Linked DNA regions of Homo sapiens. The protein of the gene in region 1 interacts with the protein of each later gene in a pairwise test. Each region holds a gene or a part of one and is shown on either strand. Other genes may lie near its edges.

Evidence for each region. Proteins that work in one complex are often made in the same cells at the same time.
Region 2: the proteins of SH3BP2 (region 1) and DBNL interact in binary tests that used the Homo sapiens proteins (3 or more experiments, as listed by UniProt).

Annotation. Positions count from the first base shown.
Region 1 is NC_000004.12:2,831,084-2,838,108, reverse strand, and holds part of SH3BP2 (SH3 domain-binding protein 2), read right to left. Parts: intron 6,539-7,025; coding exon 6,430-6,538; intron 6,187-6,429; coding exon 6,131-6,186; intron 5,779-6,130; coding exon 5,697-5,778; intron 5,120-5,696; coding exon 5,060-5,119; intron 4,413-5,059; coding exon 4,275-4,412; 3' UTR 1-4,274. UniProt on the Homo sapiens protein: Binds differentially to the SH3 domains of certain proteins of signal transduction pathways. Binds to phosphatidylinositols; linking the hemopoietic tyrosine kinase fes to the cytoplasmic membrane in a phosphorylation dependent mechanism.
Region 2 is NC_000007.14:44,061,685-44,068,709, forward strand, and holds part of DBNL (drebrin-like protein), read left to right. Parts: 3' UTR 1-1,079; coding exon of another isoform or gene 1,080-1,246; 3' UTR 1,247-3,147; coding exon of another isoform or gene 3,148-3,328; 3' UTR 3,329-3,431; coding exon of another isoform or gene 3,432-3,845; 3' UTR 3,846-7,025. Other genes in the region: PGAM2 (phosphoglycerate mutase 2), read right to left, coding at 1,080-1,246, 3,148-3,328, 3,432-3,845. UniProt on the Homo sapiens protein: Adapter protein that binds F-actin and DNM1, and thereby plays a role in receptor-mediated endocytosis.

The DNA.
Region 1 (7,025 bases):
GGGATTCTGCCTCAGCTCTGAGCCCCTCAGAGTGGGGCCAGGGAAGAAGCAGACGGCAACGCCAGGGCAGCTGTCTGGCAGCCTGGAAGGCCTGCGAAGCTTCCTAGGGGTCCGAAGGAGGGTAGACAGGTAGGGGTCTGCTCTGTACCCATCAAATCTCCCTCCAGTGAGAATGGCTGGAAGATGGCTTAAAAGGGTTCACCACTCACACACACTTCTGAGGTGGTGGGGGTTGTCTGTCAAGCATCTTCACAGGGTCACTGCCCCTCTTCCCCAAGGACAGGCAACCTCCTGGCACTGCCCCCTCAGCAGGCAGTCTAGGTGGAGGGAACAGGGCGTGCAGGCAGAGATAAGGCAGGGGGTGTGTGCGAGGTGCCCAGCGAGGGGCTTGATGCTGCTGGGTCACAGAAACAGAGGTTGTGGCCCTTCCCCCATTCCCCTCGTCTAGAGACAAGCACGGCCCTCCCATGTTCCTGGTGTGACCCTGGTGTCCTAGGCCATCCCTCCAGCGCCTGGATCACCCTCAAAAGCCTCTTCCCTGCTGAGCTTCAATCTGCCTTTCTATGAAATGGCCCCAATAAGCCCTGCCTGCCTCAGGGAACTAAGCCGCAGGTCCCAGGTCCCCCTCTCCCCCAATGCCCACCCTCGCCCATCCTGAGGTGCAGGAAGCACCTCCCTGGGGCTGCGCTGAGCCCCAACCAGCAGGGGAGCTCCGCACAACGTGGCCCAGAAGGATCAGTGGGAACCGAGGTTTCTTCTGGTTCTAAAAACATCTTTTCAAGGCTGGGCGCCGTGGCTCGCGCCTGTAATCCCAGCACTTGGGAGGCCAAGGTGGGCGGATCAGTTGAGGTCAGGAGTTCAAGACCAGCCTGGCCAACATGGTGAAACCCCGGTTCCACTAAAAATACAAAAATTTGGCAGGCAGCTGTAATCCCAGCTACATGGGAGGGTGAGGCAGGAGAATCGATTGAACCCTGGAGATTTGCATTGAGCCGAGATCACGCCAATCCACTCTAGCCTGGGCGACAGAGTGAGACTGTGTCCCAAAAAAAAAAGAAAAAATCTTTTCACAATACAAATCTTTATTAACTGAAGGCACGGGGCTCACCACAATCCTTCGGATGGAACCACAGGAAGAGAAGAAGCATGTTTCACCCTGGGCTGGGGGTGCTTCCCAAAGCCACTGGGGCCCTTTTCCCAAGCCCCAGAACTGAGCCCACCTGAACTCATCTTGAAGGTAGGTATGTCAGTGAGTCCTCCCAAAGCCTCAGTTTCCCTATCTATAAAATGAGGAAGCAGGACTGCCCCTAGGGCAAGGCCTAGGCCTCCTGCCAGCCCACCCTCACAGACCCAGAGGGCAACGCAGGGTGAGGCGGGGCAGTTTCACTCCCCAGTGCTGTGGCCCCCTTGGTTGAGTGAAAGCACCTCCAGAGCCCTAACCCTAGCCCTGGGAGCCAGGCAAGAGACCCCCACAACGACCATCAGAGGTCGTGAGGGGTGGCAGGGAGCCTGGCAGGGAGCCAGGCAGGGGCCAGGGTCTAGGCTCAGAGCAGTGAAGGATAGATAGGGTCACATGCCAGTTAGTGGCAGAGGTGGGACTTGAACCCAGGCCTCTGTGAGACTTGGTTCTCTCACCTGTAAAATGGGTCTACTAGCAGCTGCTTCTCCAAGCAAATGATGTCAAGCACCCAGCTCGGCACCTCACAGATGTGGTCAGTAAATGGTAATCCCAACCCTACCCTTATATGTGGACTAGAACACTTATGGCAAGTCTCGGGAGGTCATGGGAACTCCTCATGGCTCCTTCTTCATGCTGGAGGACCACGGCCTGCCCCATCCCACCCCAACACACTCTTGAAACTGAGGCCCTCGGCCTAGAGCAGCTCACACAGACGTGGACAGCTGTGCTAGCAGGTGCAGAGTCTGGGAGGCGAGGCTGGACCAGGGCCCCAGCTGGGCTTCGGGTAACCACAGGCCTCAACTGTCCAGTTGGCCAGAGGGACCTATCACCTGGCTCTGGGCCCCAGGATGCTTTAGCCACTTGAGCCGGCTCCAGGTGACCGTGTAAGTGACATAAAGCAAAGGTGTCCTGGACTGCACCACTCACTAGCTCAGCACCCCAGGCACCAGGCTGGAAACCACATCTCGCACCCAATTCTCCATTTAAAAATTTTACAGGAAGGGGCCAGGCACAGTGGCTCATGCCTGTAATCCCAGCACTTTGGGAGGCCAAGGTGGGCAGATCACCTGAGGTCAGGAGTTCGAGACCAGCCTGGCCAACATGATAAAATCCCGTCTCTACTAAAAATACAAAAAATTAGCCAGGCGTGGTGGCGGGCGCCTGGAATCCCAGCTACTCGGGAGGCTGAGGCAGGAAAATCGCTTGAACTAGAGAGGCGGAGGTGGCAGTGAGCGGAGATCACGGCATTGCACTCCAGCCTGGGCGACAGGGTGAGACTACATCTCAAAAACAAAAAACTAAAATAATAAAATTTTACAGGAAGAGAAACTATGGCCACAGTGGGGAGTGGCATGACTCCCTAAGCAAGTTCAGGTCAGACAGGGCAAAGAATTCTGACTGCAGGGAGGAGGAATGGCTGGTTTTCCAGAGATAGATCAGAACAACAGAAGCTCCCTGTGCTCCAGCCTCGGCTGTGGTGCACTGACCTCTCACCCCAGGCAGGCTGAAGAGGAAACCCCTGCAGAGGTGGCCTTGGACACCTGGTTCCTGGAAGCAGCTGGCTGCCGTCATCTGCAGGGCCTGCAGTTCCACCGCACCCTATGGCCCCCTGGGGTCACAGCCTCCCACATCCGCTAACCAGCCTCATCACTTGTTTCCGCCAGCAAACCACAGGTCCCCAGAACACACCCAGGGGAAGGGGGCTGCAGGACCTTCTCCCCCAGTCAGTCACTGTCAGTGGGCCCAAGTGCTGACCTCAGTTTAGGTTTCCCTGACATAAGGTGCTAAGAAAAATCACAAGGATTCTAGGGTCCCTGCCAGCCCCTACCTCCCTGAGTCTGTTTCATTAAAAATCCAGCCTGGAAGGTGTGCCAGGGAGAGTGACCTGCTGGAACTCCATGGCAGAAAGTAAGGGGATGGATTGGGGCTGGGCCTGAGCCAGGTATTGCCTGGAAGACTTGGGCATCTGGGTACCACCGTCCCTACGCACCCTTGGCCTGCTTAGGGTCCACTGTTCCCATCCCATCGTAGCTGTTACTTCCTCCAAAAAATCTTCCGGGAGCCCCCAGTCCCTGCACACCCAGCTGCCCTGGACACTGTGCCGTAAGCACCTCATACCCAGCTGTCCCCAGACTGGGCTGTGAACTCAGCCAGGCCAGAGGCCCCTGTCTGGAATGGGACCAGGCATGCAGGAGGTACCCAATAACTGCTCGCTAATGCAGGGAATGAAGCAGCTGTAGCTGCAGGGCCTTCTAGCTCTGTAGCCCGCTCAGTGTATGCAAGTTCTGGAACGGGGACAGCCACTCAGGAGGTACCCAGTAACCAGGCACTAATGCAGGGAATGAAGCAGCTGTAGCTGCAGGGCCTTCTAGCTCTGCAGCAGCACTGCCCTGGCCTGACCTGAGGCAGCAGAACTGGTGAGTGGGGTGTGGGCTCCCAGCCCAGACTGCCCAAGTTTGGGTCCTGATCTGTTACTCGCTGTGCACCCTGGGGAAGTCACTCAGTGACCTGCACCCTGGAAGACAAGACAACCAACTGTTGGGGTTCCCGGGTACTGCTGCGGTCACCACTTAGACATCAGCATGGGCACCCAGTAAGCTGGTAATCCCCTCCTTCCCAATCAAGCCCCAGCCACCAAGGCAAAGCTCACTGCTGCTTTATTGGAGGCAACAGCCCCTACTGGAGCCTGTGTCTTAGCGTTCCTGGGGGTCCCAGGGCCAGCCCCGGCCCCCACCCAGCTGCCCTGGCCCTGCCTGGCTCCCAGCCCACTTAGGGGTGAGTGTGATGGGGGGACCAGTGTTCCTGTCCTTGGAGCCCAGGCACAGCTTGGTCCTGGGTTTCTGGGATTGGGACAGGGCAAGTTAGTGTGGGGCAACAGAGTCCCTTCGTCCTCTGGAGCCTGGCGCCTGGTTCAGCCCTAGAACCCAACCTGCTGGATGAGACTGGCTGGGTCCTACGAGATGTCCATCACAGAGGCCCTAGGCAAGCACAGCCTTGCTCCTGCTCACCCTCCCATGTGGGCCCATGTCCGTCTGTGTGGCCTGGGGTCAGGGCCCCTGTGACTGCCTTGGCCTGGCAGCCACATGGACTGCCATCACCTAGGCCCAGTGTAGCCGTAGGGGTGCCGCAGCAGCAGGCTCTGGTGGCTGGGCAGCACGTGGGTGTGGTAGTGCTCCACCATGCTGCCCACACTCACAAACAGGACCTCGCCCTCCAGGTAGAACTTAGAGTCCTGTGGGGGAAGAGAAGGGGGAGCGTCAGCAGGGCCAGGCCACTCTGCGGCTCTAGGCCTCAGTCTCCCCGTCTGTAAAACAAGGCAGCAGCATCAACAGCGGCATCACCAGGCTGGCCCCTGGCTGTCGGTGGTGCCCCCAAGGTGGCCTCCGCATCAGGCCTGTGCTCTCCATGTTCCCACCTCACTTCCCCTCCGTCCTCCATGTCCAGGAGCCTGCACCCAGAGCACTTCAGACAAGGTCAGGAAATGAACCTAGGCCAGGCACGGTGGCCCACGCCTGTAATCCCAGCACTGTGGGAGGCCGAGGTGGGAGGATTGCTTGAGCCCCAGAATTTGAAACCAGCCTGAGAAAGACAGTGAGACCCCTGTCCCCGCAAAAAGAAAAAGACAAGACAAGCAACCCAGGGTCTATGGCTGACCGCCCATCCCCACTAGGGTCAGTGGAGGACAAAGGTAGGCCACGAGAGGAGGGAGGCTGAGCAGGAGGGGTGGGGGGTGAGCGATGGTGGAGGGGAAGGGGAGGGCGGTATCCTGGAGGTGCCAGTCTCAGTCTACCCGCTGCCTATGCCTCATCAGGGAGATTCTGCCCTGCCCCTTGCCAGGCCATGCGGCCAGGGTCCCCGTCCCACTCAGAGCCCTCTCACCTTCTCAAAAATGCGATAGTTCCTCACTTTGTTAGAGGTTTCGTCCCACACAACCAGGACCTACAGGACGGAAGCGGGAGGCTGACGGCTCCCTGAGAAACAGCGGGACCAGCCTCGGGAGACCATGGGCTGGGGATAGGGGGGCAGAACCATCAAGGCTGGGTCCTGTGGCCCTCGGGGGGCGGGGAGGGACTCCAGACCACCTGCACAAGGACAGCGGGGGCGACACTGGCAGCCCTCAGAGAGCCTCTGATGAGCAACAGCTCATAACCACCAATAACCACTCCGACACACCCGGGAGAGCATGGCTCAGTGAGGTCACAACTTCACGCTCGGAGGGACACGGGCAGACCTGGCGTTCCCCTGCCCCATGTGGCCTCCGCCACCCCAGAGCATGAGCCCTACCCCACCCGAGTCCTGGCCCCCACTGGGAGGTGGCCATCATGGCCCCCAATTTGCAGATGGAGATCTATTAGGGAATAGATTGGGGGGTGCTGCTGGGAAGAGAATTCAGCTGAGACACCAAGTAAGAGTCCACAAGGGGAGTGGTTTAGGAACTGTGGAGTCCTGGGCCCACCCACAGCCTGGGTGTGTGGAGAGCCAGAGGGGCCCTGGGGCATCTTCCCCTGGCGCCTACCTTCCCCGACTTGGTAGAGGAGTTCCGGATGCAGTAGAGTCCATCCTGGGGCTCTCCCCGGGGGCTTGTAGCCTTGAACAACCTAAAATAAGACAGTCATATTAGCGGGTGAGTCCTCCTCGGGCAGCTTTCACACGGACCTTCCCGCCCCGCTCCCAAGCCTGGCTTTCTGTCCTCTCGCTGTTGTAGGTCTCAGGAGCTGAGCACGTCGGGCTGCCGTGAGGCTGACAGAAGCAGCCCAGCAGAGCCCTGGCCAGCCAGGGTGCCAGCTGGGCATGGGACAGAGCAGGGAGGTCCACTCCTCTGGTTTCTGCTGCACGCAGGGCCATGAACTTGTGCCAGCAACTCCCCAACACGGAAGCTAGTGAGAGGGACACAGAAGCAGGAAGCCGGGCATGGCGGAGGACCCAGCACACACAGGGCTTTGTGCTGACCTTTCCACTTCGCAGGACTCCGTGGTGTTGACGAAGACCGAGTTGGGCAGTGGCACCTGCAAGAGGCTGACGGTGTCAGTGCCAACGTCGGAGTGATCCACCCGCACCACCACTCCCCGGACGGTGGCCACCCGGTGCCGGGATCCGGGGCTTTACATGGTGCTGTGTCCCCCTAGGCTCCCGGGTTCTCGGGGGGTCCTTGCTCAGGACGGTCTGTGAGGGGCCGCCCTGGCCTATGGCTTTCCCACCACCTGTCCACCTACTGGCCACTGGGACCCAGGCTTGCCGCTCAGCCTTGCCTTCTCATAGTCCTCGTCCGAGTCGTCCCCGCCAGTGTCAGCCTGTGAGGGTTGCCGGGGCTTTTCAAAGGAGAAGCTCCTGAAACTCTGCCCATCGGGGGGTGATCGCCTGGAGGGGCAGGGAGAGGAAGGCAGGACCATTTCACTGTCAGACACGGGGCGGCCACCCTCTGCTCCCCTCCCCACTCCACCCTCTGTGTGAGGACGGCAAGCTGCCTGCTATGGCCCCTGTGACCCTAAAAAGCTCAGGACAACAGAGATCCGGGTAGGGCTCGTGCCGACTGCCCTGGGACAGCAGGAATCGCCCGACACCGGAGTCAGGGGTCAGGGCTGCCATGGATGCTGGCAAGGGAGTCCAGGGTTCCCAAGCTCAGTGTCATCACACCGTCAACAAGTGCTCTGGATGCTCGTGGGGAGGGGAGGTCCGGTCATGGCCAAATCACAGCCCACTCAGAGCCACAGGGGAGTGGACGTGAACTGGATGAACAATGCAGTGTGACCCCAAAGGACGCCCATGGCGTCCCTGCACGCCTCCCTGTGTGGCTAGCCGGTCCTGCTCAGCAAAGCCTCAAAGGCTCTAGGGAGGATTAACGGGC
Region 2 (7,025 bases), on another chromosome or scaffold:
TCTGAAGAACAAATATGCTTTTGGACCACGAATTCCCAGTTTGGTCTACACAGGCTCGCAGCTCTCACCTGTCCTGCTGTAGCCTGAATGCTCCCATGTGGGAATAGCACCCCACCACCTGCCCAGTGTCTGCCTCTGCTCCGTGTCTGGGGTGAGCACCCTCACCCTGAGACTGTGGCTGATGATGATCAGCCACCAGGAAGAGGCTAAATGTTAAGATGGGACTGAAGTTGGAGCCTTCCTGCGTTCCAGTTCCTCTAGGAGAGGCCAAGGGCTGCCCTGCTCCCAGCTTCAGGGAGCCTCTGCCTACATGGGATGGCCCACTGTGTGGCGTCAGGTACCTGGCACCCACTGAGCATCCGGGGAATTAGGTCCCTCCTGTGCCCCAGAGCTGCTAGGCAGACTGCTAGGCGGTTGACTCAAGGTGTTACCTGCTAGTGCCTGGGGTGAAGGCTGCATGGAGCCCAACCTTGCTCCTGGCCTTCCTGTGCTCAGGCCTCTCCCCTTTTCGCCAGGGCTTCCTGGTGCCTCTCCCATGAAGAGGGAACTTCCCCTCCACTCCCATGGAAGACCCAGGTTTGGGCTGTTGCCAGCTTTGAGGCCCCCTGTGGGCTTGCCTGTCCCAACCCAAGAGGCAGGGCTCAAAGTGCCACCCGGGGGTTGCAAGGACAGCAGAGGACCACCTGCCCTCTGCAGGAAGCTGTCCAGGAAGCCGTGTCCTGGGCTGTGGTCCTTGCTCCCCATGGGGAGAGCTGGGTCACTTGGCCTCTTCTAACTGGCCCCAAGCACGCCAATTCTGGAGCATGGTTACTAAGTGGCTCTGAAGCTTCAGGGTCACCACAGGCTTGTCCTGACTGCAAACTCATGGAGTGGTTGCAGCCCTGGCTCAGTGTCCTGATGACTAGGTGTGGGTACTAGGCTCCTGCCCCTGGTGACACACGTATGGAGTGGGGGAGGGTGGGTGGCTGCACCCCTGGTTCTGGAGTCCCCACAGCTGATGGCGGTGTGAGCCTGGCATGCACGGCTGCGCTGGACTCCAGGCTGTTGGGGGAGGTGCCTTTATTGCCCAAGCCCACCCCTCACTTGGCCTTGCCCTGGGCAGCCACAGCCTCCATGGCCTTCCGCACCGTTTCCTCATCACCCAGGAACTGCATGGGCTTGGTGGGCTTCAGCTCCTTGTTCAGCTCATACACAATGGGGATCCCCGTGGGCAGGTTCAGCTCCATGATCGCCTGGTCTGACATCCCTATGCCGGAAGGAATAGGTGTCCTTAGCCCCTCTGTCCCCAGCCTGTTTACACAGCAGACACTATGTGACCTTTATGGTCCACAGAGCCAGTTCCCCTGGCACCAATTCCTTCCCAGCCCTGAGAACGAGGCCACAGAAATGTTGCCAAAGGTCAAGGAGTAACTGAGTTAGACCAAGCAGCCTACAGAAATAGCCCAGTGGTGAAAAAAATGGGGACTTCAGCCCCACCCAAGTGGCTGTGATCTGTGGTGGTGCTGTCCATAGTTCCCTCAGCCCAGTGTGACTCCAGCCAGACTGAAGTTGAGGGTCAGGAAGGGACACTCACCCTTTGTTTTTTTTTTTTCTTTTCTTTTTCTTTTTCTTTTTTTTGAGATGGAGTTTTACTCCTCTTGCCCAGGCTGGAGTGCAGTGGCACGATCTTGGCTCACTGCAACCTCCATCTCCTGGGTTGAAGTGATTCTGCCTCAGCCTCCCAAGTAGCTGGGATTACAGGTGAGCGCCACCACACCCGGCTAATTTTGTATTTTTAGTAGAAACGGGTTTTACCATGTTGGTCAGGCTGGTCTCAAACTCCTGACCTCAGGTGATCTGCCTGCCTCAGCCTCCCAAAGTGCTGGGATTACAGGAGTGAGCCACCGTGCCCAGCACCCTTTGGTTTCTAAAGTGCTCTAAATTCTAGACATCCTGAACAGAGGAGCAAGTGCGGAATGGAGCTGGAGGAGGGACAGGGAGGCCGAGCCTGGTCGAAACCTGACCCTGCCTGCCTCCTGCAGCCCCTGAGCTGGGAATAGCAGCTCGACCTTTGATGTTCGCGCCACTCCACCCCTGCTCCGTGCAGGAGGGTTTAAGAAAATGTTCTCTGGGGAGTCAGAGTGAAATCCCTCATATTCACCACCAAAAGTGCGTCCCCTTTCCCCAAACCAGGCTGTGGGAGGGTCATGGGGCTGCATGAAGTCTCCGGAAGGGAGAGGAGGCAGGTGGTCCTTCCCTCTGCCTGGCCCCAGTGCCAGGTGCCAGGTGTCCGTGTTTGGAGCGGGCAGGCTTGGGGCTGGCTGGGTCTCCGGGGCCTGCCGGTCTGGGTGCTCTGGCCAACTGCCCAACGGCCCTAGGAGCAGGAGGTCTGGGGCACACCCTTCTAGCCTTTCCAGGACTCAACAAGCTTTAAGGTCATTCAGATGCTAATTTAGACTGCCCTTGTGTCAGAATACTAAGGTGGGAGGCGGAGCGGAGGTGCCAGTCACTCTGGGCGAGGCCTTACTGCGCCCATGCATCCCGGGCCCATTTGTCAGCCCTTGCTCTTCAGTGGGAGCCCAGCTGCAAGCCCAGAGTCTGGCCACTCCATAGTCCTGCACCCCTCTTTTGATTGGTCTTTCCTTTGCCCAGAGAGGGGCTCCAGAGGGAGATAGGTGGTGAAGCTCATGCAGGGATTCTGAGGACCTGATGGGGGAGGGCCCTGCGAGGGGTCCAAGCCTACATCAAGAGGAATTCAGTACCAGGGGGAGCTCCCCACCACCCCGGAAAAGGGAGAGGCCCAGAGATGGAGGTGGCTTGTCCAGGGCCCCACAGTAAGTTGGGATTTGGAGCCAGATGCTCTAAGCCCAGCCCTTCCGTTTCCTAGCTGGGTGTCCCTTGGCAGATGCCACCTTTGGAGCCTGCCCCACCTCGGGACACAGCGAGCTTCGAGTGCAGTCAGCCCCTGTGGAGTGTGTCCCAGTTACACAGAAATGGGGAAAATTTCACAAAACTAAAAAATGGCTTCTCAGCCCTCCTTTTTCAGTGAATGATGTGGAGCCCCACGCCTAGAAAGCCTGGTCCATGGGCGAGAGACTTTGCTGAGATGAGAAGCCAGCTGGGGCTGCTGCCCACCCACCCTGCCCAGGCTCCTGAAGGTGGCCTCACCTTCCAGGTGCTTGACAATGCCCCGCAGGCTGTTCCCGTGGGCTGCAATGAGCACTCGCTTGCCGGCCTTGATCTGGGGAACAATCTCCTCGTTCCAGAAGGGCAGGGCCCGGGCAATGGTGTCCTTGAGGCTCTCGCAGGTGGGGAGTTCCCCGGGCTTCAGGCCTGCGTACCGACGCTCCTGGGGGACACAGGCACGCTGCTTTCCCTCCCAAGCCAGTGGGCCCCCACCCGACTCCCCACTCTGCAGCTTCCCAGAGGCCTTCCCAGCAAAGGCAGCCCACCTTGCTAATGGAGTTGTAGTAGGGGTGCTTCTCGTCCATCGGGGGCGGCGGGATGTCGAAGGAGCGCCTCCAGATCTTCACCTGCTCCTCCCCGTGCTTGGCGGCCGTTTCTGCCTTGTTGAGGCCTGTGAGGCCCCCGTAATGCCGCTCATTGAGGCGCCAAGTGCGCACCACAGGCAGCCACATCTGGTCCGTGCCGTCCAGGATGGCCCAGAGGGTGCGGATGGCCCGCTTCAGCACTGACGTGTAGCAGATGTCAAACTCCATCTTGGCATCCTTGATGGCCTTGGCTCCCCGCTTGGCCTCCTCGGTCCCCTTTTCACTCAGCTCTGCATCGAACCAGCCACAGAAACGGTTCTCCTGGTTCCATGTGCTCTCGCCGTGCCGGACCATCACGAGGCGGTGAGTGGCCATGGTGGCAGCAGGGACCACAGAGGACTCTGGACGGGGACGGCTGCTTCCCAACACTCCCAGCTTTATAATAGTGTCTTCCCAGCCCCCACCCACCCCAGCCAACTGCCAATCAGCATTCCAGGCGGTGGCAGGTGACCAGTAGCTGAGCTGCTGGGGGCTGGGGGCCAGGGGAGTGTGCAGGCCAAGAGGCTGTGCTTAAAATAGCCCCACGCATCCACCAGCTCCTGGCCTGGGTTCAGGTGGCATGTCTATAACCAGCTGGCACCCAGAGCCCAGACTGAGTGGGGCTGCTGGTCAGGGATGGGCGTGAAGGGCAGAAGTCTGGGCCAGGGGAGATGGGGATAGCAGGGACAGAGGGGCTCTCCAGGGCAACGCTCAGTGGCCTATCAGCCATTCTCTGCTCAGACAGAGGCACAAACAAAATCCCAACCCCTTTCTCCTGTGATTGGCAGCCAGGCTAGGAGGCGGCCCTCAGCAGGCAGAGGAGGAGAGCCAGAGGAGCTGGTGCAGACCACAGCTTTGTGGAGAGGAGTCTGGCCTTGTGGAAGGTACCAGGCAGCAGCAGCAGAATGGGCAAGGGCTGGGGCTGAGCCGGGTTTCCAGGACAAAGGGGGAAAGGGCCCCTGTCTTTCCTCCGGGGTCCCTTTGTCAAGGTCTCATCCATACATGCCCCATGCTCCCACCCTATCTGCCCTCACCCAAGCCACGCTCACTCTCCTAGCCGAAACCACCTTGAAAAAGAGAAATCCAAGGGGGTTTGGGGGCAGGACTGAGGACTGTCAGAAGTCTTGATTGTTAGGTAAATGCTCAGCTTAGCAGGAACCCACAACGTAGGCTGAAGGGTGGCACGGAGTTGAGTCTAGGACCAAGACTTCTGCATTCAGGTTTGGGGGATGAGAGCCACCAAGGCAGGGAAGAGACTATGAGCAATAAAGTCACAATTGGGGCCCTAATGAAGGGGCCATGGCCAGACCCTTGGGCATGGGCCCCATCCAGGGCCTCCCATTTCCTCCCACCCCAGTGACCACACTGTCACCTGCGACACTTCTGATAACAGGAGCGGGTAGGTGAGAGGCCAGCAGAGGGACCACCACTCTGAGACTTGGATCTGAGTGTGCAAGAAACCCTCGACAGGCCTCCCTCCATCCCTGCTGGCCTACCTGGGGAGGGGCTCCTGGCTTGGGGCCTGTGAAGCTAAGGCTCTGTACCCAAAGGTTGGCAGACAAGTCCCAGTGGGCAAAGTCCTGTCGGCTGCCAGGACCCCCAAGGCTGGCAGGTGGAACCCATCCCTCCTAGCAGTGCCATGCGCAGGTCTCACTGTTCCACACTGATCCTGATTGAAGCCACATCTCCTCATCTGCTTTTGTCCCTTTGACCAAGAGTTGATTCACTAGCCCAACTAAACATGACTGAGGACCAGGCTCTGGCAGTCCCACAGGGGCCAGACATGAAGCCCATATTTCAGTGGAGGAGGGATCGTACCAGCAGCTAAACATGCCTACCGTAGATAGCACCAGATGCTAGGAAGGAAGGACCATAATGTACTGGGAGAGATGGGAAAGGAGAGGCCGGGGACAGCCCTGAGGTGACATGTGAGTGGAAAGAGCGGAGTGCAAAGGCCTCAGCTATGATGAGTCCTACAGGGAGAGCAATTCAGGTAGAGGGGTTGGCAAAGACCCAAGCCCTACAGAAAGCAAACAAGCTGGGGCAGCGACCATCAGGGGCACATGGCAGAGAGGTGGGCTTTGTGTCCCAACACAGTGGGAATCACTGGAGACTTTGAAGCATGGTCATATTTTCAAGTCACTTGCAGCTGTGTAGGAGTGGAAGTAGAAGCTGAGTACCCTGCAGGTCTCGGCAGCTTTGATGAGAACAAGGCCGCTTAGCCAGGGCTGGGTGCAGAAGCAGTGGCAAGGATCCCCCAGACCTGGGAGACCTCACTGCCAACCAAGCAGGAGGTGTCAAAAAGGAAAGGGGAGCCCAAAGAAGGGCTGGACTTCGGGGAAGCAAGCCCCTGCTTCTGACCCTTGGCTCCGGCTTGACTTTCCTTTGATTCATTTGACAAGTAGTTGCTGGCCTCTGCAGTGTGCCAGAGCTTTCTTGGAGGGGTACAGGGGTAGGAAAACCAAAAGCCACCCTCAGGGCCTCCATCCAGGAAGGCATAGCATGGTGGGCGGCGAGGAAGGCTGCTGAGTCAACAAGGTGGTCCCAGGAAGGTGGAGGGAGCATCTTCCCATGTCTCTCCCACTGACAGCCACCAATCCTGGACAGATGCAGGAGCAGCTGTCAGTAGACAGATAAGAAAAGGAGATCAGATTCAAAGTTCCGCAGAGAAGTGGTGAGGTAACAAGTATTGCCTAGCCTGGACACACAGGCGGCTTGAAACCTCAAGTGCACCAACAGAAAGAGCTCCAGGAAGAATCAGAGGAGTGGGATGTGAAGCCCCTCGAAGTCAGTGAGTTGGGGGAATCCCTCCAATTTTTCTTTTCTTCTCTACCCCAGCTCCTGGGCAGTAACATGGAGGTGGCAGTGGTGGCACAGTGACGGTAGTGTGAGCTGGGTACGCACTTGAAACCTGAGAGGGTAACGCTACCCTCTGTCTAGAGGAGCCATGGCCCCAAAAGCATGGGGCAACCACCTTCTGCAGCTCCTTTCTGCCCCCCTGCGCTGGGCCCTGGATGCAGTTTCAGGGAGTATGCAGCAGGGTAGGTAGGGAAAGAGCCCCAGATTTGTGGCTGGAGGTCTTGGTAGGGATGTTGCAGGGAGCTGTTGTGTTTCAGGGAGAGTACAGAGAAGGGAGAGATGAAGTGAGTGATCCGATAAAGTGATATGTGAAGTCATTGGCTTGCTGCCAAGCTGCGCACAGGGCTGACCCTAGATGCACATTGCAGGTCCCAGACTGACCGGTGTAGATACAGGACTAATATGACTAGTAGTGCAAACACTTTAAACAGTCAACATTCTGCTTAGGATTTAAACAAGGTCCAGAGTCTCAACATAATATTTAAAATATCCAGGTTATCCAAAATAACCCAGTGTATGAAAACCAGGAAAATCTTAACATGGGAGAAAAGAAGATGATCAATACATGCCCATCCTGAGATGATTCAACTATTGGAATGATCAGATACAGACTTCAAAGCAGCTATTTATAACCAGCCTTCAGAAAGTATTGGTGAA